Homo sapiens: one gene and its partners. The protein of the gene in region 7 interacts with the protein of the main gene of each other region in a biochemical or structural test. Each region holds a gene or a part of one and is shown on either strand. Other genes may lie near its edges.

The links.
Region 1: the proteins of LDB3 (region 7) and MARCHF3 interact in a test that uses a peptide from one of them, tested with the Homo sapiens proteins (one large-scale study listed by IntAct).
Region 2: the proteins of LDB3 (region 7) and MYOT interact in a test that uses a peptide from one of them, tested with the Homo sapiens proteins (one large-scale study listed by IntAct).
Region 3: the proteins of LDB3 (region 7) and TYRO3 interact in a test that uses a peptide from one of them, tested with the Homo sapiens proteins (one large-scale study listed by IntAct).
Region 4: the proteins of LDB3 (region 7) and GRM5 interact in a test that uses a peptide from one of them, tested with the Homo sapiens proteins (one large-scale study listed by IntAct).
Region 5: the proteins of LDB3 (region 7) and KCNJ9 interact in a test that uses a peptide from one of them, tested with the Homo sapiens proteins (one large-scale study listed by IntAct).
Region 6: the proteins of LDB3 (region 7) and TANC1 interact in a test that uses a peptide from one of them, tested with the Homo sapiens proteins (one large-scale study listed by IntAct).

Annotation. Positions count from the first base shown.
Region 1 is NC_000005.10:127,027,246-127,032,243, forward strand, and holds the start of MARCHF3 (E3 ubiquitin-protein ligase MARCHF3), read right to left. Parts: upstream 3,314-4,998; 5' UTR 3,105-3,313; intron 3,061-3,104; exon of another isoform or gene 2,679-3,060; intron 1-2,678. UniProt on the Homo sapiens protein: E3 ubiquitin-protein ligase which may be involved in endosomal trafficking. E3 ubiquitin ligases accept ubiquitin from an E2 ubiquitin-conjugating enzyme in the form of a thioester and then directly transfer the ubiquitin to targeted substrates.
Region 2 is NC_000005.10:137,880,654-137,885,064, reverse strand, and holds part of MYOT (myotilin), read right to left. Parts: exon of another isoform or gene 4,250-4,411; coding exon 4,200-4,249; exon of another isoform or gene 3,093-4,199; coding exon 2,960-3,092; exon of another isoform or gene 1,682-2,959; coding exon 1,474-1,681; exon of another isoform or gene 1,444-1,473; intron 1-1,443. UniProt on the Homo sapiens protein: Component of a complex of multiple actin cross-linking proteins. Involved in the control of myofibril assembly and stability at the Z lines in muscle cells.
Region 3 is NC_000015.10:41,565,049-41,569,459, forward strand, and holds part of TYRO3 (tyrosine-protein kinase receptor TYRO3 isoform 1 precursor), read left to right. Parts: coding exon 1-93; intron 94-2,311; coding exon 2,312-2,489; intron 2,490-3,168; coding exon 3,169-3,314; intron 3,315-3,829; coding exon 3,830-3,974; intron 3,975-4,411. UniProt on the Homo sapiens protein: Receptor tyrosine kinase that transduces signals from the extracellular matrix into the cytoplasm by binding to several ligands including TULP1 or GAS6. Regulates many physiological processes including cell survival, migration and differentiation.
Region 4 is NC_000011.10:88,503,479-88,507,310, forward strand, and holds the end of GRM5 (metabotropic glutamate receptor 5 isoform a precursor), read right to left. Parts: 3' UTR 1,164-3,832; downstream 1-1,163. UniProt on the Homo sapiens protein: G-protein coupled receptor for glutamate. Ligand binding causes a conformation change that triggers signaling via guanine nucleotide-binding proteins (G proteins) and modulates the activity of down-stream effectors.
Region 5 is NC_000001.11:160,087,405-160,091,578, reverse strand, and holds the end of KCNJ9 (G protein-activated inward rectifier potassium channel 3), read right to left. Parts: intron 4,094-4,174; coding exon 3,762-4,093; 3' UTR 1,016-3,761; downstream 1-1,015. UniProt on the Homo sapiens protein: Inward rectifier potassium channels are characterized by a greater tendency to allow potassium to flow into the cell rather than out of it.
Region 6 is NC_000002.12:158,974,578-158,978,988, reverse strand, and holds part of TANC1 (protein TANC1), read right to left. Parts: intron 1-4,411. UniProt on the Homo sapiens protein: May be a scaffold component in the postsynaptic density.
Region 7 is NC_000010.11:86,674,686-86,679,096, forward strand, and holds part of LDB3 (LIM domain-binding protein 3), read left to right. Parts: intron 1-4,411. UniProt on the Homo sapiens protein: May function as an adapter in striated muscle to couple protein kinase C-mediated signaling via its LIM domains to the cytoskeleton.

The DNA of each region.
Region 1 (4,998 bases), on a different chromosome or scaffold from region 7:
CTAAGGTGACTTTCAGAAAGTAAGAATCTCTGGGCCTCTGGGTGGGTGGCCTGGGACACTCTTCCTGGCCACAAGCAAAATAGTCACAGCTTCCCAAGGCGATCATTGACCTCATATAGTCTGTAGTAGCCCAGCTGAGGTGCTGGGCTTTGTTCTAGAACAGCTTTTAAAGAGAAAAAGGGTGCCTCATGAAGATAAGGATTCTACCTTGCAGGAGGAAATGCTCAACCATGTGAATTAGGACTGGCAAAGTCACCCCAGAGCATCCCAGGACCCCACCGAACTCAGAGTGGGGGGTGAAGGAACTAAGACTGGGGTTTGTGGGGTGGGTCTTAAATTCATCAGGTCTTGTTTCATCAGGCAGACTTCCTTAGAATCAGGGCCAACCTGGAATAGGGATAGCTGAGGATTCCAAAACACTTTCAGATGTAAGACAAAAGGGGTCCATTGTTGAAGACAGAGAGTTAATGCATTACCTATAAATTTCACAAGGCCAGTAAATGCCACCTGGACATTTCTCAACAATTATTTGTTAAATCAACTCACAGACTATAACTGTTCTTTTATGTCATTAACACAATTCCAGTGTTTCTCAAAGTACAGTGAAGGGATCCCTGGCATCAGAATCACTTGCGGGTGCCTGTGAAAATGCAGATTCCTAAGGTCCATCCCAGACTCCTAAATTGAAACCCTGGGACTGAAGTCCTGCCCAAGAACTGAATTTCTAAGAAACAGCCTAGTTAATTTGGATGATTCATATCAAGGTGGGAAAATTATTATGTCTACATTGTCCATTAGAAATTTAAAGACACTCACAGATTAGTGTTTTGCATGTTTTCCCCAAAATGTTTATATACCATAAAATTGAAAACAATACTTCTTGTGATAAGCCCTTAAAAACCATTCAGTTTATTCCGCCCATATATAATGAACACCATTATTGAAATGTAATTATGAGCATAAAATTATTGGGAAAAATATGAACTATGCTTCTCAAAAATACTGCCTTTATTTTGTCACTAAAGTAATTGTGCTATTAAAGGAATTTATTGTTTTTTAAAGTATCAGTCACTTGGCTGCAAGAACTTATTAAGCTATTATACTCCTCCCATACCCTTTTAGTCATCAGAATTTTTGTGATAAAGCCTTTTTATTATTTTAAAACTATAAATTGTGAATCATTGCAACTAGTGATTAGACTGACTATGAATATATGTCCAGGTTATAAATTCCTAAAAGTATGTTTCATTAGAAATACCAAGGCAGTCTTAATTATAGCCTCTGCAATAAAGCTCTGTTTACTTCTATTAAGGTAGGTTTTTTTTTTTTTTTGGTGCAAAATGATTCAGTTTTAATGCATTATTTTAACAAGCAAAAGCAAACAGTTTCTGATATACATGCCATACTGCAAAGCTGTAAACCCGTGTTGCATGGTGATGTGACAAGCACCACATTTCTGGAGGGATTTTTTTTTCTCTCCTACAAGCTCCCCCTCCCCAAGCCGTGGCTATAATTATTTCACAAAATGCAGTTTGCCATTTCTAGAGACAAACACTTCCTTCTCCCTCACCAAAACTTCAAGTTCAGGCCAAATATTGAATGAAAATAGAACTTGAGAGGCAGGCTTTGTTTGTAGCATGTTGTTTCTGCTAAGAGTTGCCCCCTACCCAGGCTCCACCCCAGTGGTCGGACTGAAGTGTACATGTTATGTTTTAACAGATGGGCCGGCTGGCGGCTGCTGGGCTGTAAAACAGGAACGCGGATTCTGCACTGAGTGGTATTGAACTGAACGCTCGTAAAGTTCATGGACATACTCTGACCCAGACAGACCAGGCAGATGCAGACATGCTTACGCATACACACTCACTAACACCCCACAGCTCAGAGGATCCATCTCTGTGACCCAAGGGAAGTTCAAGGCTGAATTTCCCCTTCATATATTTACCTCATTCACCTTTTAATTTTATATATACACACACTCACACATATACACGTATGTATGTGTGTATATGCGCATCTACATCTTCATATACACATACAGAACTATATATCTCAACATTTTCATGTATTTTCAAAGGTCTAAACATCCCCAAATTCTGGACCTGTTTCTGTCTAGTATTTTCAAAAGCTCTTATTCATGTCAAATAAGAATTGTAAGAAAATATCGTATTGAATTCTGTTTATTCCGCACATAATATAAACTACATGCATGTAGTTGGTCTCAGAAAAACAAGCTGCTTTTACCCCCTTACCATTAAGGGGGGAAAACAATCTAACCCAGACCGAGTCACAAACGGAGTGTCAGGTTTAACCTTGAGTTCTCTGCTGTCAATTCCTGACTCAACTTCATCACTTAAACACGCAGGTGCTCAAACAAACACCAACCGACCAGGCTGGCAATCCCTTTCGCAGCCTCTAGGATTCTCCAAGGCACTGGGCACCAGAACCGACAGCAGCTCCCGCCTGGTCCTAACGAAGTCCTTCGGACACCCCTTGCGGGTGGATGTGGAGGTCCGAGCACCTCAGGAGGGTCATGGATTCAAGTGCTAATAGAAAGCAATTACTTTAGAAAGTTCAAAGCCCAGCAGTGCTCTCAATTCCTCTCAGTAGCTGCAGAGCACTGAAGCCCCCGCTACAGAACCCGGCTGGTACTCCAGTTCTCTGGCGCTGAGACCCACCTTGAGCCCGATGAGCGCTCGCTCAGCCTTGAGATCCAGACGCGGACGCCGGGTCTTACCGTACCGCACAGCGCGGGTAATTTTTCAGGAACCGCGGTCCGCACGCCGCGGGCGCGGAGGCCGCCCCAGCGCTCCATGTCGTTGCCGCAGAGGGGCAGGGGACGCGTCCCGGCCCCACCTACCCATGTCAATTACGCCAAGTTGGTGCGGACTGGAACCGCGTCCCGGGCGGAGTTGGGATGCTTTGACAAGAAGAAGTTCGGGAGTGGGGATATTGGCACGGAGTAAATCCCGCCCAGCCCTGACCTCCCCACAGCGGTCACGCTCGGACGAACGGACCGCCGAGCGCCAGGACGCGTCCCGTCCCCTCTCGCCGCCGCCGAACCGCGCCGAGAGGAGCCGCTAGCCCGGCGCGCGGCCACTCACCGTCCTCGCCGAGTCCCGATAGCAAACCGACGTCCCTGCTGCGGTTCTAAGTGCCAAGTTGCCCCCAGTCGGTGGCTGCTCACGGCCCAGTGGACCAGGGCACATTGGTTCCGGCGGGCACCTCAGGGGGAGTGCGGCAAGCCTGGCGGCCGCCGCGGCCACACAGTCGCCCACAGCGCGCTGACAATTCACGGACCTGCTCAACGAGTGAGGCGGAAAGCAGGGCTAAGCCGACCAGGCTCTGGAGGGGAGGCGGGGCTGCCGCTAGGGGCGGAGCCAGCCCCGGGGCGTCATCAGCCCATGACTGGCGGAGCCGACAGCCAGTCGTGGTGGCGCTGGGACCGCCCCGTAACCGCCGTCCAGTCGCCTGCGGCCGAGGGCAGGCTGGCGGGACGCGCCGGCGGCGGGGAAGTTGGTTATTGCGAAGTGCCGTGGCTGCCGGCGGGCGCTGCGGGACTCTCTGCAATGGGACCCGAGCAGCTCTAGAGGGAGGCGGCGGCCCCAGAAGGCCGTTGGCTGAGAGAGACCAGGAGCCCTCGGAGCCGCCGCGCGCATAGCGCTGTGGAGCAAGAAGCCAACCGCAGCGCGGGTCGACACGCCAGTATCTGGCACCGGCAGGAGGCGCGGAACTTAGCTGCCCCATCGGAACCCCGCCCGGAGGAAGCTGAGGGCCGAGAAAGGATGAATTCCGGACCGGGTCGCCCAGCCACAAGTGGAAACCTGGGCTCTCTGGAAAACGTTCTGATCTCGATCTGGCTATCTCTGAAACAAAACTCCAGCCCCGCAAACCTCCCAAAGTTCAGTACACGTCCCCGTCCTCACCCCTGCCCTCCGGGCCACCTGCAGCGGGGGACTTACCGGCGCCTCGGGTCTCCTCCTCCCGACCCAGCGCGTCGCGGACACAGCTGGCGGCCAACAGGAGGCTTGGGCGCTCGACGGCGCCGGAACCTGTGAGACCGTCGCTCTGGGCGGGCTGCCGTGCGGGGTGGCATCCTCTGCGGTGACTTCTGCTGTCTTTTGGGTCCGCCAGGATTCCAAAATCCCAGGCGGGTCGCTAGAATTATCCATCTTCGTGGACAGGAAGCCCCAGAACGAACCACATCTGTCCCACTCTGCTTCCGCCCTCCTTCCCCTTCGCAAGCTCCTGGCTGGGATGGAGACATCGGACGAGCTCGGAGATCCCGACCTCTCAGGGGTCACTCGCAGCCGAACAGCCTGGAATATGGCCTTGTGGGCCCTTCCCGCCCAACCCCCTAGGACCCCACTGCTCATCTTGTCAACCAGTTTCTGAGCCCCTACCCTGGCTGCAGCACGTGCTCGCACAGGCGCGCTGAGCTACTAACATAGAATCAAAAGCAGGGAGTTGGGTGTTCTTGCTTTCCCGCTGAAACCTAGAATGTAAACAAGCCCTAGACCGTCAGCTGTGGGTGGGTAGGGGCCTCTCCCTGCCTAGAACTGCTCTTGCCATGGGTAGGCACCTAACCCGTATTAGTAAGAATGAAGGAATGCATGCTCATAACAAGAAAGGGGTCAACCTGCTGCCCTGATACTCACCTTCACCACTTACGTCTTGCTTCCAGCGCAAGCCCACTTCAGACCATTGCCTCATTCAGGTCCCAGAAGTCCTAAGGGTTTTAGTCTCTCAGTATGGGCAATTATTCACATGTAAGGGAGCTGCAAGGTGTTATTTCAATGCCATCTGGCCTCTATAAGGTCTTGCATCATAGCTGACCTCTCATGAGAAGGTTCTGATGAGGTCACCAGGGAGAAGGAATGTAAAGGGCTGGTGGCTGAAAAGGAGTGAAATGGCCCCTCTTAGGTGAGCTCTGGCCTGGTTTGAGTTTCAATTCTGTCTCCTCAGCTCCATTTCTCAATGGGAAAAGGTCCATAGGAA
Region 2 (4,411 bases), on a different chromosome or scaffold from region 7:
ATTTCTGAAGCCATTGGTACAAATAGGATTTGTCTAAACTTTAATCACTTAAATTGTATGTGTTTTTGAAAATTTCCAGCCCACTAGTTTTTCCCCTGAGATTGAGGCCCTTTGGTATATTATTGAATAATCTTAAAGATTTTGTATTGATCTGGGTAGAATATAAACTCAAGAAAATAGTTTATCCTTTAACCTGATCAAACTTCTGTATAATAAATAGTGAATTATAGCAAAATATCTCTTATGCAATATACAATGGCTTAAAGTATTAAAAATATGGTATGGGTTGAGTATCCATTATCTGAAATGCTTGGGACCAGAAGTGTTTTGGATTTCTGATTTTTTTTTTATTTTAGAATATTAGCGTTATACTTGTTGAGCATTCTTAACCTGAAAATCCAGAATGCTCTAATGAACACTTCCTTTGTGTGTCATGTCGATTTTGGAGCATCTTAAAGATTTCAGATTTTTGGATTAGGGATACTCAACTTGTATATTTAAAGCACTTAAAGTGTAAAATTTAAAAACCAGACACCAGTTTTATAAGAACTGCTCTACTTAAGACAGATTTGAGACATAAATGTAGCCATACCTGTTTTCTAAAGCAAGTAGGCCTGTTTTGGTTATAATTAGACATTAGTTTCCTAGTAAAAAGGACATAGTCTAAGGCTAAAAGTTGATATTTACTCTTGATTTTTTAAGAAATTTTTTTAAACAAGGTCTGACTGTGTCACCCAGGCCGGAGTACAGTGGTGCAATCATAGCTCACTGAAACCTCAAACTCCAGGCTCAAGTTATCCTCCTGCCTTAGCCTCTCTAGTAGCTGGGACTATAGGTGTGCACCACTATGCCCAGCTAATTTTTTTATTTTTTGTAGAGACAAAGAAGATCTTGCTATTTGTTACCCTGGCTGGTCTCAAACTCCTTGGCTCAAGTGATCCTTCCACCTTGGCGCCTCTTAAAGTGTTGGGATTACAGGCCTGAGTCACTATACCCAGCCTACTCTTCACTTTTAAACTATGTATTTAACGTTTGACAGATTATGATAATTCTGTAATACTGTGAGTCAGATTGGTTATTTTTATTATCCTCATTTTGGAGAAACAAAGACCAGAGAAATGATTAGACTAAGATTTTCATTTTGAGACTCTATAGTTACGTCTAGAAATGCTTATGCTTCATTATTTGGTTTGTCTAAAATTGTATGATTTATTTTCTTTCCAGAAAAGCTTTGGTGATAGATCTGTCATTCTAGTTTCACTGACTTTCCTTCACATATCTATATATGTATGTATGTGTGTGTATATATATATATTTTTTCCTGTGGTTTGTAGATAAAAATGGACATTCCAATAGGTTGTATAGACATTAACCTTAAATATGAAGTCTGCTGGGCTTTTCTTTTAAAATACTTTCTTTTTTTCAATACTTCTGGATTTTAAGGAATTCTCAAGGGTCTCTTTGGAGGCTTACCAAGGACATCCAGCTGCACAGTGAAGGTGGCTTCTCCTGCTCTATTCTTGGCAACACATGCATAAGCCCCTGCATCTGAAGCTCTGACTACTTCAAAGATGAGTGAATGAAGACCCTTCTCAGACACTATCATTTTGTGCAAATCATCTGATTGAACTGTTCTTCCATTTAGATACCATGACACATCAGGAGCTGGCAGTCCACTCACCTAGAAAGAAAAACACAAGGAGATGGCAGAATTTTAAAGTATTGCATCACTGAAACCTATTTGTCCATATATGAATTTAAACAGTTCCCGTATCTGAGTGGGTTTGCGATTGAAATGCAAAGCAAGAGCTCAAAAGTATTTATAATTTTTTAAACAAAACATTGGAAATAAGATCCTTGAAATTAACATAGTATTTTTAGACTGTCTCAAACCATAACTCTTTTACATGCAACCTCAGTCTCTTTATGAACTCTTAATTTCTATATTTAGAACATTAATTTATGTTACATTGGTTTCCATAAGGAATATAGAAGTCATTGCTTTTCTGGCTAAATGTGACTGCAAATGAAGTCCCAGAGGCACATATATATGAGGCTTCCTGATCTAATGCGTAATTTTTCTAAAACAGAGTGTTCTTGAGCTATAGTTTGGCATATAAATGGCAATTTGTTAAGTGTTTTTACATAAACTGTTAACAGTGGAATCCAAAGCTTTAACACTAACTTGAGTTCATAAGGAATCTGGAAAAAAAATTTTATAAGGAAAAGTTCTCCAAAATAAGGATAATAAAAATATAACCTCTTCTAAAGAGCTTTTCTAGTCTGAGGGACTCTTTTAGGCCAAGAGAAAGCAGGGTGGCTTGAATTTCTTGATAGAGGAGAATTGGAGAGACATTATACTTTAAGGCTGGGCACAGTGGCTCACGCCTGTAATCCCAGCACTTTGGGAAGCCAAGGTGAGTGGATCGCCTTGAACCCAGGAGTTCTAGACTAGCTGGGCATGGTGGCACGCGTCTGTAGTTTCAGCTACTAGGGAGGCTGAGTTGGGATGATGGCTTGAGCCTGGGAGACAGGTTGCAGTGAGCTGCGATTGTGCCATTGCACTCCAGCCTGGGTGACAGAGCAAGACCCTGTCTCAAAAAAAAAAAAAAGGGCATTGTACTTTAAAAATTATATTGTTCTGATAGCTTCACTTATAAAAGTATTTATTAGGTATACCTATCCACTCAATTAATCCTCATAATTTTTTGGGGTATTTGTTATCCCATTTTACAGATGAGGAGACAAAAGCACAGAGAGGTTAAATGACTTGTCTAAGGTTGCTTAGCTGGAGGATGGCAGAGCCAGAATTCAAACCCACATCAGTTTGACTTCAGAATTTGTGTTCTTGTCCATTGTACGTACTGCTTTGCAAGCTATGAAGTAGGAAAAGAACATTTTTCAAAACTTAGTATCCCATTGTTAATTTTCCCCCAGTACTTTTGAACCCTTCTCTTACTTTGAAGTCCATTCTGCAGAATCTTCCTTCATCAATCGACATGTTCTCTGGCACTTGAATGAAACGTGGTGGGTAAAATTTCTCCTGGATTGCATCCTGATCATTCACATCTCCCCTTGAGGTTGATCTACTTCTACAAGAATATTTTGGTAACAACTATGCGTAAATATTATCATTGCTTTTCATTTTGCACAAATATAGTTTAGCCATCAATTTTTTTTTTTCAATGGAGTTTCACTCTTGTTGCCCAGGCTGGAGTACAGTGGCCCAATCTCAGCTCACTCAGGAGGCTAAGGCAGGAGAATCGCTTGAACCCGGGAGGCGGAGGTTGCAGTGAGCCGAGATCGCGTCGCTGCACTCCAGCCTGGATGACAGAGTGAGAGTCTGTCTCAAAGATAAATAAATAAATAAAAATATCCAAATTAAGTTTTTGACGTTTTTCTATAGTGGTGGTGTGAACATGTATATAGTTATATTCAGAGATGTGGTATTTCAGTTATACCAACCTCCGCTTCTTGGGTTCAAGTGATTCTCTTACCTCAGCCTCCCGAGTAGCTGGGATTACAGGCATGTGCCACTACGCCTGGCTAATTTTGTATTTTTAGTAGAGATGGGGTTTCACTATGTTGGTCAGCCTGGTCTTGAACTCCTGACCTCAGGTGATCTACCCACCTCGGCCTTCCAAAGTACTGGGATTACAGGTGTGAGCCACTGCGTCCAGCCTAGCCATCAAATTTGAAACCACAGAATCTACTGTTTGATCTGATAGTGTAATAACAATGAAGAGAGGCCTTAGGGCTGTATTTACCTGTGGCATATTTGATGACTATTAGAAATGGTAGCAATTTAGAAACATCTGGTACAAATTGTACATCTTAGTTTCTCTTTTACAGTGCCATGAATTGATGAAGAAATGGTCTATTAAAATGCCCAGTACCCAGCAGATTATTCTTACCACCAAAGATTGTATAATAAGAATTAGGTCTCCATTGTCATGAGAAAATTGTTTAATATAGAAGCATGATCCTGGCTTATTTGACCAAAACATTAAAAAATTCCCCTGTGATAGTTTTGATGATGAACGTCAAAATTTTGGTCATCTTCTCAGACATTAGAAAATACACATTGTATTTTTCAAAAGGTATAGAGTAGGCTCGAGGGCTTTATAAATATTACATTTTTAAGCTGAAAATATTTTAGATAGGAAAACATACATTTCTTTAAAATTAAAATTTTTTACCTTACTTGTGATGTAGGAACTTGCAGTCGCGCATGTTCTGAGTTGTGTTGCTTGAAATTAAAACAAAGTAAGAATGTTTACATGCAATTGTTAGCTTGAATGAAGCAGAATTAAGTAGTTACAGTTGAAAGGAACATTCCTATTTTGGCTGTATTTGAACAGCCCTGGTAAGTTCTATATATTCAGCTTTTAAGCCCTTAAAGTACAGTGCA
Region 3 (4,411 bases), on a different chromosome or scaffold from region 7:
ATCACCGTGACAAAGCTTTCCAGCAGCAACGCTAGTGTGGCCTGGATGCCAGGTGCTGATGGCCGAGCTCTGCTACAGTCCTGTACAGTTCAGGTAGGCTCTCCGGGCCGGGCCATGCTCGTTCTGGCTGCATGGCCAGCACTTTGTTGACAGGGATATCACACTCACTAGCCAGCTCCTGGGGGCTTGGTCTGCAGCTCTTTTCAGGCTCTGCTCCTTAGCAGGAAGAACACAGGCCACTGTCTCTTATCATGGGGTGCTCTGGCAACTAAGTGACTTTGCAGATTGGCTCAAACTCATGCATTCATAAGGTTGGAAAGCAGATCACTAGAACAGATTTGGGGTACCTGGAAGGTTTTTCTTTCTTTCTTTTTTTTTTTGAGACAGGGTCTCACTGTTGGCCAGGCTGGAGTGCAGTGGTGCCATCTCGGCTCACTGCAACCTCCACCTCCTGGGTTCAAGTGATTCTCCTGCCTCAGCCTCCCCAGCAGCTAGGATTAGGATTACAGTCATGCACCACCACGCCCAGCTAACTTTTTTTTTTTTTTTTTGTATTTTTAGTAGAGACTAGTAGTTCACCATATTAGCCAGCCTGATCTCAAACTCCTGACTTCAAGTGATCTACCTGCCTCAGCCTCCCAAAGTGCTGGTATTACAGGCATGAACCAGCACACCCAGACGAGTTTTTCTTACTTAGGTGAAAGCTCAAACCTTTGCTGATACTCACCCTATCATGCTCCACCTTACCCCCCAACCCCCACTCAAGCCAAAGAGAACAAGATGACCAGAAGGGGCCCTAAGCCTTGGAGAGTGGAAAAACTGTGTAAGGTGATACTAAAAACAAGAGGCAATGCAGGCTTGCTCATTTTCATCCGTTTACTCAAAGGCCATTTAATGAGTACCTTTCAAAACTGTTCTGGGCAGTTCCCCTGGGCAGGAGGGGCCCCTGCTCTGGGCTCCACCATTTAGAGAACCCTACTGAGGTTGGGCACAGTGGCTTATGCCTGTAATCCCAGCACTTTGGGAGGTGGAGACGGGAGGATTGCTTGAGCCTGGGGGTTCAAGACCAGCCTGGGCAACATGGCAAAACCCTTTCTCTACAAAAAATACAAAAATTATCCAGGCACAGTGGCATGCGCCTGTACTTCTAACTATTCAGGAGGCTAGAGTGGGAGGATGACTTGAGCCTGAGAAGTCAAGCCTGCGGTGAGCCGAGATCATGCCACTGCACTCCAGCCTGAGTGAGTGACAGGGCAAGATCCTGTCTCTATTAAAAAAAAAAAAAAAAAAAAAAAAAAAAAGAGGATCCTACTCTGGCCCTCCTTTGGCCACACCCCTTTCCCCGGGGCAAAGAGCCTACAGGGCCAAGAGGATATGCCCATCCAGATGGCAAGGACCCCCTCACTGCCACACTATACTATAGCTATTCAGGATCTCTTGCCCTAATGGTTCTGAGTCTGCTTCTGGGGTCTGTGTGGGCCTTTTCCCTGTTCCATCTTCCCAAGGATGGACCGCAGTGTGATATGACCACCTCTAAGCCCAAGGGGCAGCCATTCGTGAGGGGGATGGGAATGGAGCTTGGATATGCAGTCAGCATTGTCCACGCCTGTGCACATGAGGCCCCTCATGGTGCAGACCTTGGCTTCAGGCCAGCTCTTCCAGTGCCTCCTCATTCTGACTCGGGACTCCAGGGATTTGGAGAGTTACAAATGCAAACCTGATCTCCCAGGTTGTTTTGAAGGTTTATTGGTCAAAATATTAAGAGAGAAACTATTTAATAGTTTGTTAGCTGATTTATAATGTTTAAATATTTAGACATATAGTACGTGGATCTCTTTGTACTCTTGCCCTGGGCCCCCAAAATGTAAGATGAAGGGCTGGTTCATAGTGCCCTAGGCTCCCAGTTTTCTCTGAGCTTCAGAAGCTCTAGAACTTTGGAGTGGCATGTAAACAGGCACAGTAAGTGGTAAGTATACCCTAAGAGTTTCGTACCAAGTACAAAAGGACAAGAGTTTTCTGGAGTGGTTGAGAAAGGCTTTCACCAAGAAAGTGATATTTGCACTGAGTCTTAAAGGATGAGTAGGCCTTTGCTAGGAAGAGCAGGTCATTCCAAGTGAAAGGAACAGCATTTGCAAAGGTATGAAGATGTGGAACCCTGTGTATTATTGGGGTGGGGGCAGATGGGAGGGCGTGGGTTGCAAGTGTTTGCTGATAGAGGAAGCATTCATTCAAGCACCCATAACTATACCCATCCCATCTTCCATCTCTCACAGGCTCTCCCCTACATCATTAGTTTTCTGCTTTTCTGTAGGTGACACAGGCCCCAGGAGGCTGGGAAGTCCTGGCTGTTGTGGTCCCTGTGCCCCCCTTTACCTGCCTGCTCCGGGACCTGGTGCCTGCCACCAACTACAGCCTCAGGGTGCGCTGTGCCAATGCCTTGGGGCCCTCTCCCTATGCTGACTGGGTGCCCTTTCAGACCAAGGGTCTAGGTAAGGGATGCATAGAGCAGAGCGGGTGGGCAGGGCTGGAGCCGGGAAGGGGGCCGTGTTGGCTGGAGTTCTGAATGGTGCTGGTAGAGATGGAGGTTCAGGCATCATTCGGCAAACATTTACTGCATATAACTACATACCACCTTGTAAGTAGTTCTTGTAGGTGGAACAGATAAGCAAACTGGAAAAGATCAGATAATGTGGTTGATAAAGAGTGTCCCCAGGTGGTTAAGGAAACCCCCCCTAAAAAGGTCTGAAGGATAAAGATCTGAAGGATCTGGGATCTGAACGATAAAGAAGAAGCCATGTAAATATCTGGGGGAAAATCACTGCCGGAAGAAGGCACAGCAAGTGCAAAGACCCTATGACAGGAACTTGCTTGGCAATTGCAAAGAGGCTGGCATAGCTGTGAGAGGGGAGTGGTAAGGGGTGAGGCAGAAAGGCAGTAACCATGGTGATGAAGAGCAACACTGCCGAGCTGGGGTGCTGCCTGTCCTGCCCATTGCTTACCCCTCCCCCAGCACAGTGGGTGAGAGCAGTCAGAGCTGGGAGGTGAACCCTTCCCCAGTTTGTGCCTCTCAGAGCTGTTTAGTTCTTGGGAGTTGATTCCAAAGGTCTGCATGGAATTATGATGGTGGGAAGGGCAGGGGTCTTAGCAATCTTCTCTCTTTGGCTGCAGCCCCAGCCAGCGCTCCCCAAAACCTCCATGCCATCCGCACAGATTCAGGCCTCATCTTGGAGTGGGAAGAAGTGATCCCCGAGGCCCCTTTGGAAGGCCCCCTGGGACCCTACAAACTGTCCTGGGTTCAAGACAATGGAACCCAGGTAAGACAGAACCCTCCCCTCTCTCCACTCTCCTGGAGTATAAGCCTTCAGGGTTCTAAGGCCTTTAAGAATTTCAAAATGATTGTCTTTGGTGGGCCTGGGTCTCCCGCAGCCCCAGGGAATCCTTTCCTCCTCACCCTCCTCTGCAAGCTCCACTTCTCAAAGGATTATGTCTCCTGTTAGGGTTGCATCCTGTGTGCACTTTGTAAATAAAGCAGGAAGCACATTCCTGCTTGAGCTGGGGGAGGGCACAGATAAGGCTTTGTCCCCAGCTCAGTTCGCTCCCATCCCCCACCTGTGCATTCCGGGACTGAGCCTTGTTTGTGTTCTGGAGAGGCCCCTGCAGCCGGGAACAGGAATGTGATTACTCCCAGAAGGTTGTGTTCCTGCAGCCCCTGAACCCACAGTGCCCCTATACTCCCATGTTCCCAGCTGGACCTTTTTCTGTCCTCAGGCCCCAGCTGGAGGCCTTCTCCCCAGGCTCACTATGGGGTGGGGGCTTTTCCTGGCTGCAGGATGAGCTGACAGTGGAGGGGACCAGGGCCAATTTGACAGGCTGGGATCCCCAAAAGGACCTGATCGTACGTGTGTGCGTCTCCAATGCAGTTGGCTGTGGACCCTGGAGTCAGCCACTGGTGGTCTCTTCTCATGACCGTGCAGGTGAGGCTTGTAGGTGGAGAGGGGCAGAGGCTCAGGGGATCAAGGTTTTCAAGGGCAACCTAGACTGATGGGAGGAGCCTAGTAGCATCTCCCCTCCTAGTAGACCCACAGACAGAGTGAAGAAGTTGAGGCCAGGGCTGTTTAAACTATCTTGGCTGGGCATGGTGGCTCATGCCTGTAATCCCAACATTTTGGGAGGTTGAGGGATCGCTTGAGGCCGGCAGTTTGAGACCAGCTCTGGCAACATAGCAAGACTCTGTCTCTACAAAAAAATTAAAAAAAAAAAAAAAAAACAATTAGCCTGGTGTAGTGACATATGCCTGTTAAGCCCAGCTGCTCCAGAGGCTGAGGCAGGAGGATTGCTTGAGCCCAGGTGTTTGAGGCTGCAGTGAGCTATGATTGCACCACTGCACTCCAGCCTGGGCAACAGAGTGAGT
Region 4 (3,832 bases), on a different chromosome or scaffold from region 7:
TACTATTGAGCATTTATCAGGAATGTTGAAATGATAGAAACTTCACAGATTATTGTAACTCACTTCTGCATTTAAAGCAAGAGGAACAAGTTGTAGAGAAATCAGAGTGATTTATCCAAAGTCAGTTGGTGACAGGTAAGAGATCCTGGCTTTTAATTCAATGCTATTTCTATTGCATCCGCTGGTTTTAAATGGCCTTCCATAATTTGATGGAGTCTGATAAGGCTCTTTGGATTTTTAGAAGGTAATTTCCTGTACCTGGTTTGTATATGTCACTTCATCCTCAATTTTATGTGAACATATTACCATTCATATCACGTTAGAATAAAAGATACTGAAGGGAAGAGTCTGACAAAACAGATAAAATGGCTTTCTTTGTTAAGATCAAACACATTCTGTATAATATATGTATCTACATATGTATATATATCATTATGCATTTAATACAATGTCAGAAGCATAAATCAAATATATTTTTAAATATACCTTGTTTTTCTCTTCCATACATCAAGCATCTACCTTATATTCTGCTGTTAGTTTTTCACTAATTTGTGTCCAGGGAATGTATATTTGCTCAAGAATCAGTCAAAGTAAAACTTTTTTTTTTTCTGGAAAAATTATGTAATATGCACATACATCTACACACAAACACACATATACACAGAGACACATGCAGATGGACTCAAAAGTCAAATGTCTATATAAATATGTATGTTTGTAAACACACATCTATACACACACAAATAATCTATTTTATCTGTGTGATGTTACCTCTATCAACACATATAATTATGAAACTATTTCTATAATTTGTATGTCTAGATGCATAAACAATGCATATTTCCTATATATTTTTTTAAGTACTTCTTTATGTAACAGTTGTTTGTAGATGTGTTTGGGGACAACATCTCTGGTTGGTTTGTGGTTGGTTTATATTTTCATTTAAATCTATACAGTCCACTGCTTACTTTGTAAACCCCATAATTCAAATGTATAGATCATCCAGTATTCAAGATTAATTAGTATCATGGCTCTTTTCATCTCAGAAAACACTATTAAGACAACATTCTAAACATTTGAGGGGAATAATCTTAAAATCATATTATAGGTTTTTTAATTTTTTTGAAAAGTAACTGGCTTCACAAACACCAAGTACAACATGATTTAGACAACTGAGAAACAGGCAAGTATATTTTGAAGTGCTAAAATAAAACATATTTATACAAGTACAAAGCAAAACAATGCTGATAAAAATGTTAAACTTTATGAAAAAAAATCATTTGCAGTTCACATCAAAATAATTTAACATTCTCTATTATTTTAATAGTACAAGCTGCCACAACAGAGAAAGAACAGATACACGCACACAATTTTAAAACCAAATCAGTTATAAGTGCAGAAAAAAGTAAGTACAAGCACTTTTAGCCCACACAAATCTTTTAGGATTGGCACCATCTTTCTAAAACATCTATAATCTATATAGATTTCTAATTACAACACCATCAGCAGCTGCCATTGATTTCTAGAAATACACACAATATACATAGTATATTTGTTCACATTGGGAAGATCAGTGAAATTCAACCAACTATTTTATACATGCCTCATTCTTCAATAGACAGTAGAGACTCTCCCAGGCCTCAGACCCTCTTCAAAGTGAATTCTGACTTGTCTTTATGCTTTCACTGATCTGTATTTTTTCACAGTATAAAATTGTAAATGGTAACTATAGAGATTCTGACAGCTTGAGGGTTATTAATAAGCTGTTGCTAAATGTGAACTCACATAATACCTTTGAAGTCTCCAAAACATGTACATTTTACTGGGAGACTAGCATAGGAAATGCTTTTGTTTTTTGTTATTCTTAAAAAGAGCATTTAATTCCTGGCTTGGAAGTCACAGAACTGCAGCAGAGCTATTATACAATTCATTTACAGTCAGAAATAGCTCCTAGTCTTCCTGATCACTTGCTGGTAACAGCAGTAGTTTGGGAAAGATAGTTACTTTCAAGGATTAGCACGTTTGGGGATTTGCTTTTTTTCCTTGCTTCAGTCAAATCTCTTATAATTTTTCTTTCCATACTCCCTTTCTGTTCCCCATCCCTAGCCCAGAAAGACGGTTCTTCCCAATCCAGATATGTTCTTCTTAGGCTGCCCCCACTCCTTTCCCAAAATGGAAGGATGAGTGGACTGCTTAGATTAGTCAGTATAACTTGGTTAAACCACGTCTTCTTCTTTCCATCCTGGGACATATCTCTCATTTAGGGTCACTTTGCTGAGCCTTAGCATATCCCCTTCCTTTTAGTCATGCTGGTCCCGACTGAATTATCACTGGGCACCAGGAACAGATTGTTTTGAAGGAAATTCAATGAGAATGTACCCAAATGAATTGTGAAGTTCATATCCTATAGCCCTAGAATGAATATTCAGTTCTCTTTGTACTGTAGAGTTATTACTTGGAACCTGGTATTAGAATTGGCAAAGAGACAGAGTTAGCATCATTCCAAAATAAAAGATCTCAAGAATGCATTACTAATAATCTTATGTCCAACATACAATGTATTCAATGGAGTGGCAAAAGTTATAGAAATACAGAGAAAAATATATCTTGTCCTTTTCTAATTGGATAAATCATTTTTATTATTACAGTTGATTATGATAGCATGTGGAAGTATCAGATGGCAATTTACTTGCATTAAATTTAATTTCTGATGAAGTTTTTTATAAGGTAGTGTGCTTTTTAAGAGATATGTTACTAAAAAAATAGAAAATGAATTTGACCATGAACAAAGTTTAAACATGTTCTTCAACTGGTCTAGAGTGAAACGTATTGTACTTGAGAATAAAATGAAAATCAACATAAGGATTTTATAAAACAAATTTTAAAATGTAGAGCATATCAAGAAAGGTTTTTAATACCTAAGAAGTCAAGATAGGAATCCTCAGGTGAATGCCATCCTTTTGATGAGGATCCAAAGGGTATTAACACCTCAAAAGATTTCCATTTGTTTTTCAGATAGAGGCAGACATTTGCTTTTAATGAAACCATGAAACTTAGCTAGATTTCACTTACATTTTAAAAGCCTCGGTGTAATATTTGGGATCAGGGTGCTGTGATGATGTTATTTTCAAATCTAGCATGGGAGGTTCGATTTCTTTTAAATTAATACTTTAGTACATTAATGTTAGCTTTTAATGTTTTGTATTGGGAGGTTTGACTTAAAGTTGCAAGTAAGAACAAATAGCAGAAAAGAAAACTCAAGCAGAATATTTATTAGAATTTTTTAAAGTGAAGAATGATAAATTATGCCAATGGACTGACTTCTATTTCTCAGTTTATTTTCTGTTAAGTAGATGTGAAATAAAAAAAAATACTTACCAAAGTAAGGATATTGAGCTAAAAGAAAAAGTTTTATTTATTATTCTCTCTGCCAAAATATACTTCTGCCTCACAGCACATATTTTTCATAAGGCTATCTTAAGTATAAGGCTGGGTCAACTGAACTTTAAATTTATAGGACACCTCCTCCATTTATTACTATCCTTATTTAAAAATCAAAACATTTGGTACCTGAGGATAGCTGCAATGGGAGGAAGAAAGAGATGACAGTGGATTCAGGTCTTGAACTATGAATTCTACCTATTTGAGACTATCAAAGCACACTTGTTTCTGTTATACTCTAAATCTCTTTTCTGTAGTTTTAAAAAGTGACAGTATGAAGTGCACAAAATCATATTAATCATTATTTTAAAAAAGAAAATAAGAATTGCTTTGCCTCTTTTTGGAATGGCTAAGAAAGACTGTGTGGTTAATATTCATTAAGGTTCCTCTT
Region 5 (4,174 bases), on a different chromosome or scaffold from region 7:
AGCTCCAAGCCCTCCTCTGGTTGCCTGGACACCCTCTCCCTCTGTCCACTCTTCCTTTAATTTATTTGACCTCCCACTACCCAGAATGGGAGACGTGCCTCCCCTTCCCCACTCCTTCCCTCCCAAGCCCCTCCCTCTGGCCTTCTGTTCTTGATCTCTTAGGGATCCTATAGGGAGGCCATTTCCTGTCCTGGAATTAGTTTTTCTAAAATGTGAATAAACTTGTTTTATAAAAAGCAGGCTTGGCTGTGTCTTCCCTACCATGAGACTGTAAAACGCTCAGGGTGCATAGTAGGGAGGTGGTTGGGGATTGACAACCTATTCTGGATGACCCAGGCCTCTCTTCCCACCACAAACACCATCTGGCCTCCATGGGCCATGCCACCCACCCCAGGAGGGGACACCTGGGTTCCATCTGCAGCCTGAACTGTCGGGGCTGAGACAACTCCTGATTGGACTCCTACTTGGGGAGGGAAGCATAGAAAAGGAGGGTAGGTTCCAGCTGCCTGTGGTCACCCCCGCACCAGCTTCTCCCATGTTAAAGGGCATGGGCCTCCAGGGGCAGTGCCTTTTCTGAGCTTCCCAGACTTTCCCCAACTCTTCCCACGTCTCATTCTCCTGGTCAGGCTAGTCTTGGACCTGACTCCTCCCACTAGGCCCTGGGGCTGAAATTGTTGTTCCTTCTGACCCATAGCAGCAGAATAGAAGCCTCAGAACACAACTGATACTCAGGCTGGGACAACAGGCAGTCAGGGGAGGGCCTGTGTGTCCACAGAGCCATTGCACCCACATGTACTCGCTGTACCTGCATATACCCTCTACCCGCATATACCCACTACACCTGCATATACCCGCTTCACCTGCCTGTACCTACCCTGGGGTCTCCTCCCTCCCACCCTTCAGCTTCACCCCTCCTCCAGTGCCCCAGGAGTTTCATGAATTTTCTTGCCTAAGGATTCTCTGATCCTAAAATTCTTACCTGCACGGCACCTTAAGAGGCATCTGGCAGGCCTCCTTCAGTTGTTATTTAAACATTTATTGAGCATTACGAGTTTGCTGTCATTTTTACAGATGAGGAAACTGAGGCCCAGATATGCGATTTGCCCAGAGTCATAGAGCTAATTAGCAAGTGTCAGGAGTAGGACCTAGGTCTCCTGACTTGTTGCACTGTACAGTGGTGCCCTGAGTGGTGACAGTGGCGAGGAGAGGTGTGGCAGGGTCTCAGTGACTTCAGCAGGCAGGAGGGGCCTTTCCAGACTGAGTTTCTCTGCTTGTTCAGCTGCAATGGGTTGGCTCCTGTGTGAGTGCGTGTGTGTGGATACCAAGTAGCCCACCCGCTCTTGTCCAGACCCCCCTGTTTTACTGAAACCCAAATGAATCCCCATTCTCCATCCCAACATCTGTTCTTAGGGGACCAGTCAATGCCAGGCTTCAGGAATCTCATCTTTGATGACAGGGCCCCAGTGGCCCTGTGACCTGAGGCAAAGATATCCGTGTTTTGACTGAAAGGAAGGGACTGGGACTTGGGTCCTCTCTGAGTGAACCCCAGCTGTCTGGGCTGCTTCCATGGCCCCCTTTCTTGCTTCCAGAGGACCCATAGGGCCCTGGCTATGCCCATAGGACCCTGGCTGTGCCCCATAGGACCCTATCTGCCCAGCCTGGAACAGAGAAGACTGGAGTGCTTTCCCCAGGGGGCTTATGAAAGGGCAGGAGTGGGATGTGGCCAGGGCCAAGGGAGGAGGTCCTTGCTGGGCCAGTGCTGCTGTGTGGGAGACAGGCGCTGTCCCAGGGCAGGCTCTCCTGGGCCTATGCTTTTCTCCAGGCCAGCTTCAGGTCCCTTCCACCCCTCTGCCTCTCTCAACTTGCAGTTGTTCTCCCTCACTATCCAGGAAGCTGCCGCTGGTGACTGGGATGTGATCAGGAAGCAGGTGGAGGTGGGGTGAGAATATGCGTCTTTGGGACCCCCTGGCCCAATTGGGCTGACAGCAGGCTGCAGACACATCCAGATGTTCTAACTCCTATCGCTTCTCTCCGATTTTCTCCCACATTCAATCTTGCCTCCAGTCCTACAAGGGGTTCTGTCCTTTGCCCCTAAAACTCTTCCTGCTCCACCTCCCCCCGACCTCCCCAGGAGCCCCCTCAAGTCCTTCTGATGGCTTCATCTCTCTGTCGGGCCTGCTCAGCTTCCAGACACCCCCTCCACTTGTCACTGCCCTGTTTCCATTGATGGTTGAGTTTCTGGGCCCAAAGTTAAACTCTTCAGCCTGGGCTTCGGGTCCCTTTCCCACACATAAAACCCCACCCTTCACATTTCTCTGTCTGCTCCTGTGAGGATCCTCAGCTTCTTCTCAGCTTCTCTTCATCTTCCTCTCAGCTACTCCTCAGTTTCTATGCCCCATGTCCTGAAACGACTTCCAAGTATTCACTTAGAGCACAGGTTCTCAAAGTGTGGTCCTCAGTCCAGCAACAGCAGCATGACCTGGGGACTTCTTAGGAATGCATGGTTTTGGTCCCCACCTCTTGGGTCAGAAACCCTTGGAGTGGAGCCCAAAAATCTGTGTTTTACCAAGCCCTCCAGGTGATTCCAACGCACACTGGAGATTTCTAACTCCTGACTTACATATTCCCTATGCCTTACACTGGCCCCAGCCTTCTGATCACCCACACTCCCCTACCCTCCACGGGACTGCACAGGTTGTCAGTTTGAATTATCCCTCGTTCAGTCACCACAGGTAGATTCCTCTGTTTTCCCAGGTGCCCCTTATTTTGAGGACAGGAACCAGGTTTTTGAATGTCCACTCCACATGGCACCCAATCAGTGATGTGAATGACTGTGCCCCAAGGACACACTGCTTTCCTAGGGGCTCCCTGTTTCCCAGCTCTAGTGAACCCACTTTCTAGATCTCTCTCCTGGCCCTTCCTCCCCAGAACCTCTCTCTCTCTCTTCCTGCCTGTGCCTGATACCTGTAAGATCTCACTCCACTGTAAGAAAATAGCTATCCCTGGTTTTCCTTTCCCAGGCCCCTCTCCAGGCCCCAGCTCAGGCACCTCCCCGCTCTGCCTGCTTCCCTGAACTTGCGGACTAAGGTCATTCACACCTTGCTGAGCCCCTTGCACGCCTTCATCCTGGTGAGGGTGGAGCTAGGAGGGCACCCTCCTCATGTGCCCATCTTGGTCCGGCTCCTTTCTCCTTCACTTCAGCTTGGCCTACCGTGTCATTAGACAGTTGTGCCATATGTGGGGAGGCTGGCAGAAGAGGTGACTGGGGACTGCAATCCATCCTATACTCTGCTCCCCAAGCCATGCACCCTGGTTTGGGGCTGTATCTGTCTGGAGGAAAAGGGTTCCTTTTTAAAATTTGCACAGGGGTGTTCTACAGGTTAGTGGCAGCCCTGAGTGGACCAGTTGTCTACTGGTCCATCTATGTATCTGTCAGCTGTCTTTATCTGCTACCATCTTCCCATCCAACCCCCAAAAGTCCATCATTCTGTCCATCCATCCACTCATGAACAAATGTGAAGGTCAAACACAGACTGGCATTTTCACCCGGCCCCACCCTCCATTTCCCTGAAATCAGGACCCCTCCCTTCCATACTGGTTTCTAGACTTGAGGTTCTGGGGGACGGGGACTTTCCAACTTTAGCACATTTCCAGGGGCTTTGCCTTCCTCCTCCTCCTCCTCCTCCACCACCTCCGATATGCAGTTCCCCATGTATCTGTGTCTGGCCCCCGGTCTGCCACAGGGGTCTGGAGGAAGCTGGTCACACCTTGGACTCACTCTCTGGGGGTGGCAGGCAGCCATTCTGCTCCTTGTCAGCCCCAGCTTCCCCACCCGCCCCCTCCCCCGCCCCCTCCTCCTCCACCTTCTCATCCAGCCGGCTGGGGATGGACCAGTAGAGATGGGCATCAAGGCGGGCGGCAGCCTCTGCCAGCTCTCGAGCACTGCACGAAGGTGTGGGCACCTCAAAAGTCTCGTGAAAGCTGGCATAGTCCACTTCGTAGAAGCCGTCCTCCAGAGTCAGCACTGACGTGAAGCGGTGGCCCCACAGCACCTCGTCTACCAGGTAGGAGCTCCGAGCTTGGCATGTCATTCCTGGGAGGAGGGGCACCGGTCAGGGGGAATCTCAGCTCCAGGCTTCCCTCTCCTCTTCTCATTCCACAACCCTACTCCCAG
Region 6 (4,411 bases), on a different chromosome or scaffold from region 7:
CCTTAAAAATGGCCAACAAAGAAATCTGAGCTAGAAGTCTCTGATGCAAGAAAACAACCAAATTTGATGTTCCCTTGCCTCTAAGGAGGCAATTTATAATGTTCAAAACACTTTATATACATTCTGTCATTTGACCCTCAAAACCCTGGAGACATGTCTGTCTTCCATCAGGGGAGCATATATCTAACATAGCTCAACTTGAAAGCCTACAACTTGTGAACTCTCAACTATCTTTGCATAGAGGGAATACTGACATAGATAACTCTATTCAGCTAAGCACTACAGAGCCCATCACCTCCCATCTCCCAGTGGGGATGCTCAGGCCAGATCCTACCCTGGGGAGTTATCGCCCATGATTTTGCTTTGTGGTAGTTGCAGACAGCTCACTATCTGCAGGCATTTAGATCTTCATACATCTCATCCACCAGGCCTTTCGTGTTACTCCACAAGGACTCTCCCTTGAACTCACTGCATCTGCTAGGATTGTCTTTAATGTTTTTGCACTATCATCCTATGGAACCTCCCATTTCACCTGTGTCAGTGTTCCCATGTGAAAGAACATGGCACTGTAAATAACATGCATGAGGGCACACAAACCAGCCAGGAAATAAAAATTTTCCAGGTCTGAATCCTGGGTCCTGCTGTCTTGGTTCTGTGAGCTCCCTGCCCTCAATCTCCTTTCATGTACATGGAGCTCCCTGCCTTCCTAAGGCTGCCAGAAGGCTGGAGGCGAGACCCACCCCAGAGTAACAAGTCCAGAGTGATGTTTAACAACTGTGGATTCTCTGTCTCCCTTTCTCCCAAAGGAGAAACAGATTGTTTTCTTTTTAAATGAGAAAGGTAAGACAGGACCCCCTACCATCAAAAAGCCTACAACCCATCTGCAAAGCCAATAGGCGAACAACTTAATAATAAAAAGCAAACAGAGAAAGACATTATAATGAATGTACAATGTACTAGGGAGACTAAAAGGAAAGAAAAACTGAAATGTGGAAGCGGGAGTAAATCAGAAAAAATGTTCATAAGAAAGCAATATTTATTTAAGCTAGCCCTTGAAAGTCAAAATTTCAGTGGTGGTGGTAGGGTGAGGGAAGAGGCAAAATTGAAACAAAGTATCAGGGACGGGCAGGAGTTCAGTGGTATTAGCAGAGACAAGGAGAGGACAGCTGGGCCTGCAAACAAGTTAGGGTCCAGATCACAGAGATTCTTGAAAGCTAAGAATAAAACAGGGACAGCTACTACTCTTATCTGTCCTTATATCAGGTATGATGCTTTCAGCTGCAAGTAACAAAAATACCTAACTCTAAGTGACTTAAATTGTGGTATCAAAGCTTTTTTGATCACGCAGGACTATCAGTTAAAAAAAAAAAAAAAAATTAGCCAGGCACGGTGGCTCATGCCTGTAATCCCAGCACTTTGGGAGGCCGAGGCGGGCAGATCACTTGAGCTCAGGAGTTTGAGACCAGCCTGGCCAACATGGTGAAACCCCATGTCTATGAAAAATACAAAAATTAGCCAGGTGTGGTGGTGCACACCTGTAATCCCAGCTATTCAGGAGGCTGAGGCAGGACAATCACTCGAACCCAGGAGGCAGAGGCTATGGTGAGCTGAGACAGCACCACTGCACTCCAACCTGGGCAACAGAGAAAGTTTCCATCTCAAAAAAAAAATTTTTTTTTAATTAAGCCAGGTGTGATGGTGCACACCTGTAGTCCCAGATACTTGGGAGTCTGAGGGGACAGGATCACTTGAGCCCAGGAGTTGGAGGCTGCAGTGAACTATCATCACACCACTGTACTCCAGCTTGGGCAACAGAGCAAGACTCCCTCTAAAAAAATAAAAAGTAAAAAATTTTAAAAACGTATTGAAGCTCAGGAATTTCAGGGGAAAAAATTTATAACATATATACTAACATATTATAAATTGTATTAATTTATGTGTAATTAAAACTAGTTATGAATGGTATGTATACACACACATGAATGTAGTATATACATTATACAACATTTAAAACTTTTAAAGGATGGGAGTCAAACAGTATTTTTAAGTTCATTTTTATTAATAATACAAATCCAAACATAATTTTGTTGTTGTTGTTGTTGTTTTTCAAGACGGAGTCTCATTCTGCCGCCGAGGCTAGAGTTCAGTGGCACAATCTTGGCTCACGGCAACCTCCACCTCCCAGGTTCAAGTGATTCTCCTGCCTCAGCCTCTCGAGTAGCTGAGATTACAGGTGTACACTACCACACCTGGCTAATTTTTGTATTTTTAGTAGAGACGGGGTTTCACCATGTTGGCCAGGCTGGTCTTAAACTCCTGACCTCAGGTGATCTGCCCGCCTTGGCCTCCCAAAGTGCTGGGATTACAGGCATGAGTCACCGCGCTCAGCCCATACATAATTTTTGAGCCACCTTCTTGTCAAATTTGTTTTAAAAGTCATGTTCTAAACTCATAAGAACATTTTCTTGTTCCTTTATACTTATATCATTATCATTACACTTTCTTTGCAAGAATCTTTTTAAACCACTCGCCCATTTTCTGGGGGTCAGTTTAGTTAAAACCAGATAATCTAGCCATAAATGTATTTAGATGGATAGAGTTCACCAAAGGCAAGAATAAGAATGAGGGTACCACTGTCAATTCCACCAGGTTGTAAAAGGCCCAGTCTTCCCTCAGGCAACCTCATATAATGTAAGTTGATAAAAGACTACCAGATATACCAACCAGTGTCAACTCATACATTAAATATTTTAAAAGCTTAATTTTTTCTAACATTCTTGAATATTTTCTTCCCTCCCATATTGGATGATCTAGCACACTCCACTCTGGGGACCACTGATCTTAAACAATAATGAGGCTGGGCACAGTGGCTCACACCTGTAATCCCAGCACTTTGGGAGGCCAAGGTGGGAGGATCCCTTGAGCCCAGGAGTTCGGGACCAGCCTGGGCAACATGGGGAAACCCCATCTCTACAAAAAATACAAAAATTAGCCAGGTGTGGTGGTGCACACCTGTAGTCCCAGCTATTTGGGAGGCTGAGGTGGGAGGATCACTTGAGCCCAGGAGGCAGAGGCTACAGTGAGCCATGATCATGCCACTGCAGTCCAGCCTGGGTGATAGAGTGAGACCCTAGCTTAAAAAAAAAAAAAAAAAAGATAAGAAAGAAACAATAACGAAAATGTTTTTTCTCACAGAAGTTCTGAGTCACAGTGGTTCTAGGGCTGGCTAATCAGCAGCTAAAATAAGTCATTGTGGGCTGGGGATGGTGGTTCACTCTGTAATCCAGCACTTTGGGAAACTGAGGTGGAAGGATTGCTTGAGGCCAGGAGTTCGAGACGAGCCTGGGCAACATGGTGAGACCCTGTCTCTACCCGCCCGCCTCCTACACCCCTGACACCGACAAAAAAAAAAAAAGTAATTGTGGTCTTAGGCCACCTTTAGTCTGCACTCGGTGCTACTTGTTCTCTTGTGCTGACAACCTTATGCTTCAAATATGCCAGGACCTAACAGGCGTCACATACATATTCATTAATGAGTCACTGGCAAAAGGTATGGCATTACTAAAATTGATGGCTTAATCAAAATTCACTCCCTGGGGCAGGGGACGCATCCACCTTACCCTTAAGTACATGGCCAGTGGAAAACTAATCAAAAGCAGGATTATAGTAGTAAGCACAGTCACCCCCCTCCACACCCAACCCTCCATATCTCAGGTTCCATGGCCACAGATTCAACAAACCTAGGTTAGAAAATATTCAAAAAATATTCTAGTAACTGACCACTGGAAAAAAGATAACAATACAATAAACACAATAAAATACAATAAATACAATAAAAATATAAATTTTAAAACAATACAGAATAACAACTATTTATCTAGCATTTACATTATATTAGGTATTATAAATAATCTAGAGATGATTTAAAGTATGAAGGAGGACTGGGGGGTTGGCTCATGCCTGTAATCCCAGCACTTTGAGAGGCCAAGGCAGGAGGATCACTTGAACCAAGAGTTGAGACCAGCCTGGTCTGGTCTCATAGTAAGACCCTGTCTCTACAAAAAAAAAAAAAAAAAAAAAATACAAAAATTAGCTGGGTGTGGTGGTGTGCACCTGTACTCCCAGCTACTTAGGAGGCTGAGGTGGAAGGATTGCATGAGTCCAGGAGGTTGAGGATGCAGTGAGCCATGATCACACCAGTGCAGTCCAGCCTGGGCAACAAATGGAAACCCTTTCTCAAAATAAAATACAAAGGAGGCCAGGCAAGGTGGCTCACGCCTGTAATCCCAGCACTTTGGGAGGCTGAGGCAGGTGGATCACCTGAGGTCAGGAGTTCAAGACCAGCCTGGCCAACATGGTGAAACCCCATCTTTACTAAAAACACAAAAATTAGCCAGGCGTGGTGGCACAT
Region 7 (4,411 bases):
GCGGCTAGAAAGATTAAAAAGAAAAAACCACAGCTCCAAGGAGTTGGGTGCTTTGGGCCCTTTCTGAAACACAGAAAGGAAAGAGGAGGATGGAGTCAGACAAGACAGACGTGGAAGCATCGTGCCTGGACTGCACTCTCCATGAGCCCTGGACTCTGGGCAAGGGTCTGAGGGTGCCCCCCTCCAACCCACCCAGGCAGGCTGCTCCTGAGGTGGGGTGAAGGCATCCGATGGCTCCTGATCATCCATAGGGTCCCTGCCTCCATCCTGCCTGAAGCACCTCCCTAGAGGAGGATATCAGCACCCCCAGCCCCCACCCTGAGGGATGTTGGACCCTACTCAGGGCAGCCAAAGGCCAGGCCAGCTGAGCCCTGACAAGCAGACACAGCTGCAGGGGAGAGGCACTGGGCAGGGGATCCAGCTCAGCCACTTCCCTCTGGTCAGAGGCTTGGCTACTGACCAGACCCCAGGAGGCTGAGCTCTCCCTTGGGAGCAAGCATCCCCCCGGCCCATACCTGAGGATGAGGGAGAGCCAGGCAGGTCTAGGTGAGGGGAAGTGAGGAGACCTGGTGGGGAGGGCTGGTGCCCGCTGACCCATGCCTGTGGGAGAAAGATGTCTCTGAGGCAGCTCCAGAGGGAGGACAGTCAGATAGCCCTGCAGAGGGCCCCTCTGATCTGGCCCCAGCCTCTCTTGGATATCATTCTGTTGCCCTTGCTCATGCTGTCATCATGATCTTCTGGACACAACTCCCATCTTTCCTGTCAGCATCTCCTCTGTGACCGAGGCCACAGCCTTTCTGCGTGGGGTCTGCAATGACCCAGCCCTGCAGGGGGACGACCCCTTCTCTGTAGATGGGCATTTGGGGGTGCCCTGCCGTGAGAGAGCCTTGCTGTGGGGGTGTCCTGCTGTGGGGGAGCCCCATGGGCAGTTCACTAGGACAGAACAGACATTGCAAAATTCGCCCTGGAAAGAAGTATGCTGGTACCTGCAACTTTCTTTGAAATGCCCGGCAAATGAGATGGATTGATGGATGTGGAGGGATGGAGTGTGATAAAGCAAAGCGAGTGAAATGTTATGGTACAGCCATGGTGGCGGGTGTTCAGGTATACACTTTAGAATGTTTTCTACTTTTCCTGCCTAGAAATCTGCAAAAATGTCTATAATAAAATGTTGGGGATCACATAGAGGAGTAGGGAAAGTTGATTTTCTGCAGGACAGGCCTGGCTGGGCAGCTCAACTTGCCCCCAGGAGTCCCCTCTCAGTCTAGAAAACTCTTTTGCTTTCCTTCACTGATGTTGGTTTTTACACTTTGTTCACCTCTACACTCAAGGCAGCAATACACTCCTGTCATTAATAGAGGCTATGGCAATGAGTCTGGGGGTAAGGGCTATGTGTATTTTAAGAAATCTCAAGTAGCTCTAAGATGCCCCTGCGGGGCCTGGAGGGCAAGCTGGACTTTGCAAAGCAGATGCTGTGGCTTCCTGGCAGTCCAGACGTCTGTTTCTATATTGTCCTTTCCTGTCTCTGCAGATTCCAGGGCAGGGGAAGGGGCGCTGTGGGCACAAGGTGGCCAGTATTTTAAGAGGGCACCACAGGCTGGGTGTGGTGGCTCATGTCTGTAATCCCAGCACTTTGGGAGGCTGAGGCAGGCCAATCACTTGAGGTCAGGAGTTGAAGACCAGCCTGGCCAACATGGTAAAACCCCCTTTCTACTAAAAATACAAAAATTAGCCGGGCATGGTGGCATGCGCTTGTGGTCTCAGCTACTGTGGGGAGACTGAGGCAGAAGAATCGCTTGAACCCAGGAGGCGGAGGTTGCAGTGAGCCGAGATGATGCCATTGCACTCCAGCCTGGGCATCAGAGCAAGACCCTGTCTCAAAAAAAAAAAAAAAGAGAAAGAAAAAAAAAAAAGAGGGCACCACAGCCCCTAGGGCTGAAATGGCAGGTTCACAGCAATTGGAGAGGGCTGTCCTGGTCTTGCCGTCATCACCCACGTGGTGTAGGGCAGTGTTTCCGTGACCCGTAATGTGGTCGTGCAGAAACAACTCAGTTCCTGGGCTGCATCTGCAGAGCCCATCTGGGAATGGGCTGGACACTGGTGACTGGTGACTGCAGGGCATCCTGGTTTGGAAGGGGCTTCCCTGTGAGGGGACTGGCAGGAGCTTCCACCCATGTCTGTAAGCCCAGAGCCTGGCCAGAGGCCCACCCAGGCTTGGCACCTGGGGCAAGGGACTGTCCCCAGAGCCTCTCTGGGCTCCTTCTAGGATGGTTCTCGGGCCTTGGCCTGAATCTAGCTTCTGCCAACACTAGGAGCTGGCTTGGTCCTTGGGTTATAGCCAGGAAGGTGACTGGGATGTGCCCAGAGAAGCCCAGAGGACTGGCTGGTGGGCATGTTTGGGAGGCAAAGCCAAGGAACACTTCCAGCCACAGCTTGTAGGGGGTGGGGTCCGGAGCCTCCTCTTTCCTGTGATGTCCCTGAAGGCCAGGCCTGCATGGCACTCCTCATGATGTCATGGGGGTTGGGGACCTCCAACATGGTATGGTGGGAGTCAGGTCATAAAGCCATTCTATGTGATATTAGCAGGGGCCAGCCCATTCCATGTGATGTCACAGAGGGTACAGCCAGAGTCTCTGGCATTCCATGAGGTATCTTTAGGGGTGGGGCTGCTAATGTCACTAGGGGCCAGCCATCAAGCCTTTTTAGGTGACATTATTAGAACCTCTGAAATTTTGCATCTCATGTGATATTACTGTGGGCAGGGCCACCAAAGCATTCAGTGTGCTATTACTGGAGGCCGGGGGTGCAGAATTTGGCATCGTGCATGATGTCCCCAAGAGTGCAGTCTGAGCCACGATGACATCCCAAGTAATGTCCCAGGAGGTGTGGCCTTCCTGAGATTCCATGGGGAATTCCCGGGATGGAGTTGCAGTGGCATTCTGTGTGGTTACACTGAAGATGGGGCCTCCAGACTGTAACATTCTGTGGTATTATCGGGGCTCAGGGTTTGGGAACTGGCCCCCGCACCTGCACCCTGCCTTCTGGAGGTATGACATCAACTACAGAACCCTAAGCCCTGCCCCATTTCCCAGCTGAGTTTGCTCATCCAGGCAGGGTTGTCGGCTACCTCACTCTCTCCACATCTGCCAGGTAGCACAAAGCACCTGGCACTAAGATGCTTTTGAGTGGGTGCATTTATCCTGCCCTTCAGCCTGGCAGTGTCTCTGGGATGCTGCTGTGTCTTAGCTGCTGCATCTCCCTTTTCTCCTGGAGTCTGAAAAGTGCTCCATAGCTTTGCAGGGTGCAGGGGTTATAAGAGGCTAATCAAGGTTACAAATAGCCTGCAGTTTTTTGTTTGTTTGTTTGTTTTTAGACAGAGTCTCGCTCTCACCCAGGCTGGAGTGCAGTGGCATAATCTTAGCTCACTACAACCTCCACCTCCTGGGTTCAATCAAGAGTTCAAGCGATTCTCCTGCTTCAGCCTCCCGAGTAGCTGAGACTACAGGCACATGCCACCATGTCCAGCTAATTTTTTTTGTAATTTTGGTACAGACGGGGTTTCACCATGTTGGCCAGGCTGACCTCAGGTGATCTGCCTGCCTCAGCCTCCCAAAGTGCTGGGATTACAGGCATGAGCCACCACACCTGGCCACCCTTTTTTTTTTTTTTTTTAAGACCGAGTCTCCCTCTGTCACCCAGGCTGGAGTGCAGTGGTGCAATCTCAGCTCACGGCAACCTCTGCCTCCTGGGTTCAAGCAATTCTCCTGCCTCAGCCTCCCAAGTAGCTGGGACTACAGGCGCCCACCACCAGGCATGGCTAATTTTTGTATTTTTAGTAGAGACAGGGTTTCACCATATTGGCCAGGCTGATCTCGAACTCCTGACCTTGTGATCCACCCACCTTGGCCTCCCAAAGTGCTGGGATTACAGGCGTGAGCCACCACGCCCAGCAGATGCCTGCAAATTTTTAAGAGACAGAGTCTCCCTCTGTCACCCACGCTGGAGTTCAGTGGTGAGCGATCATAGTTTATTGTAACCTCAAACTCCTAGGCTGGAGTGACCCTCTCACCTGCCTCCTGAGTAGCTAGAACTACAGCCATGCACCACCACACCCTGCCAAATATTTTTATTTTTGTAGAAACAGGGTCTGGGCTCCTTTGCCTGGGCTGGCCTCAAACTCCTGGCCTCAAGCAATTCTCCTACCTCAGCCTCCCAAAGTGCTGGGATTATAGGCATGAGCCACCATGTCCAACAGCCTCCAAACCTTAATGGCTCAGAACAACAAAAGTTTCTCATTCATGCAACGTCCAATACAGTGCTCCTTAATCATCTCTCCTCCTCTCCATGCCCTGCATTCAGTCAGTCAACAAGCAGAGAGTGTGCAGGATCACAAGGATGGTTGCTAGAGGCA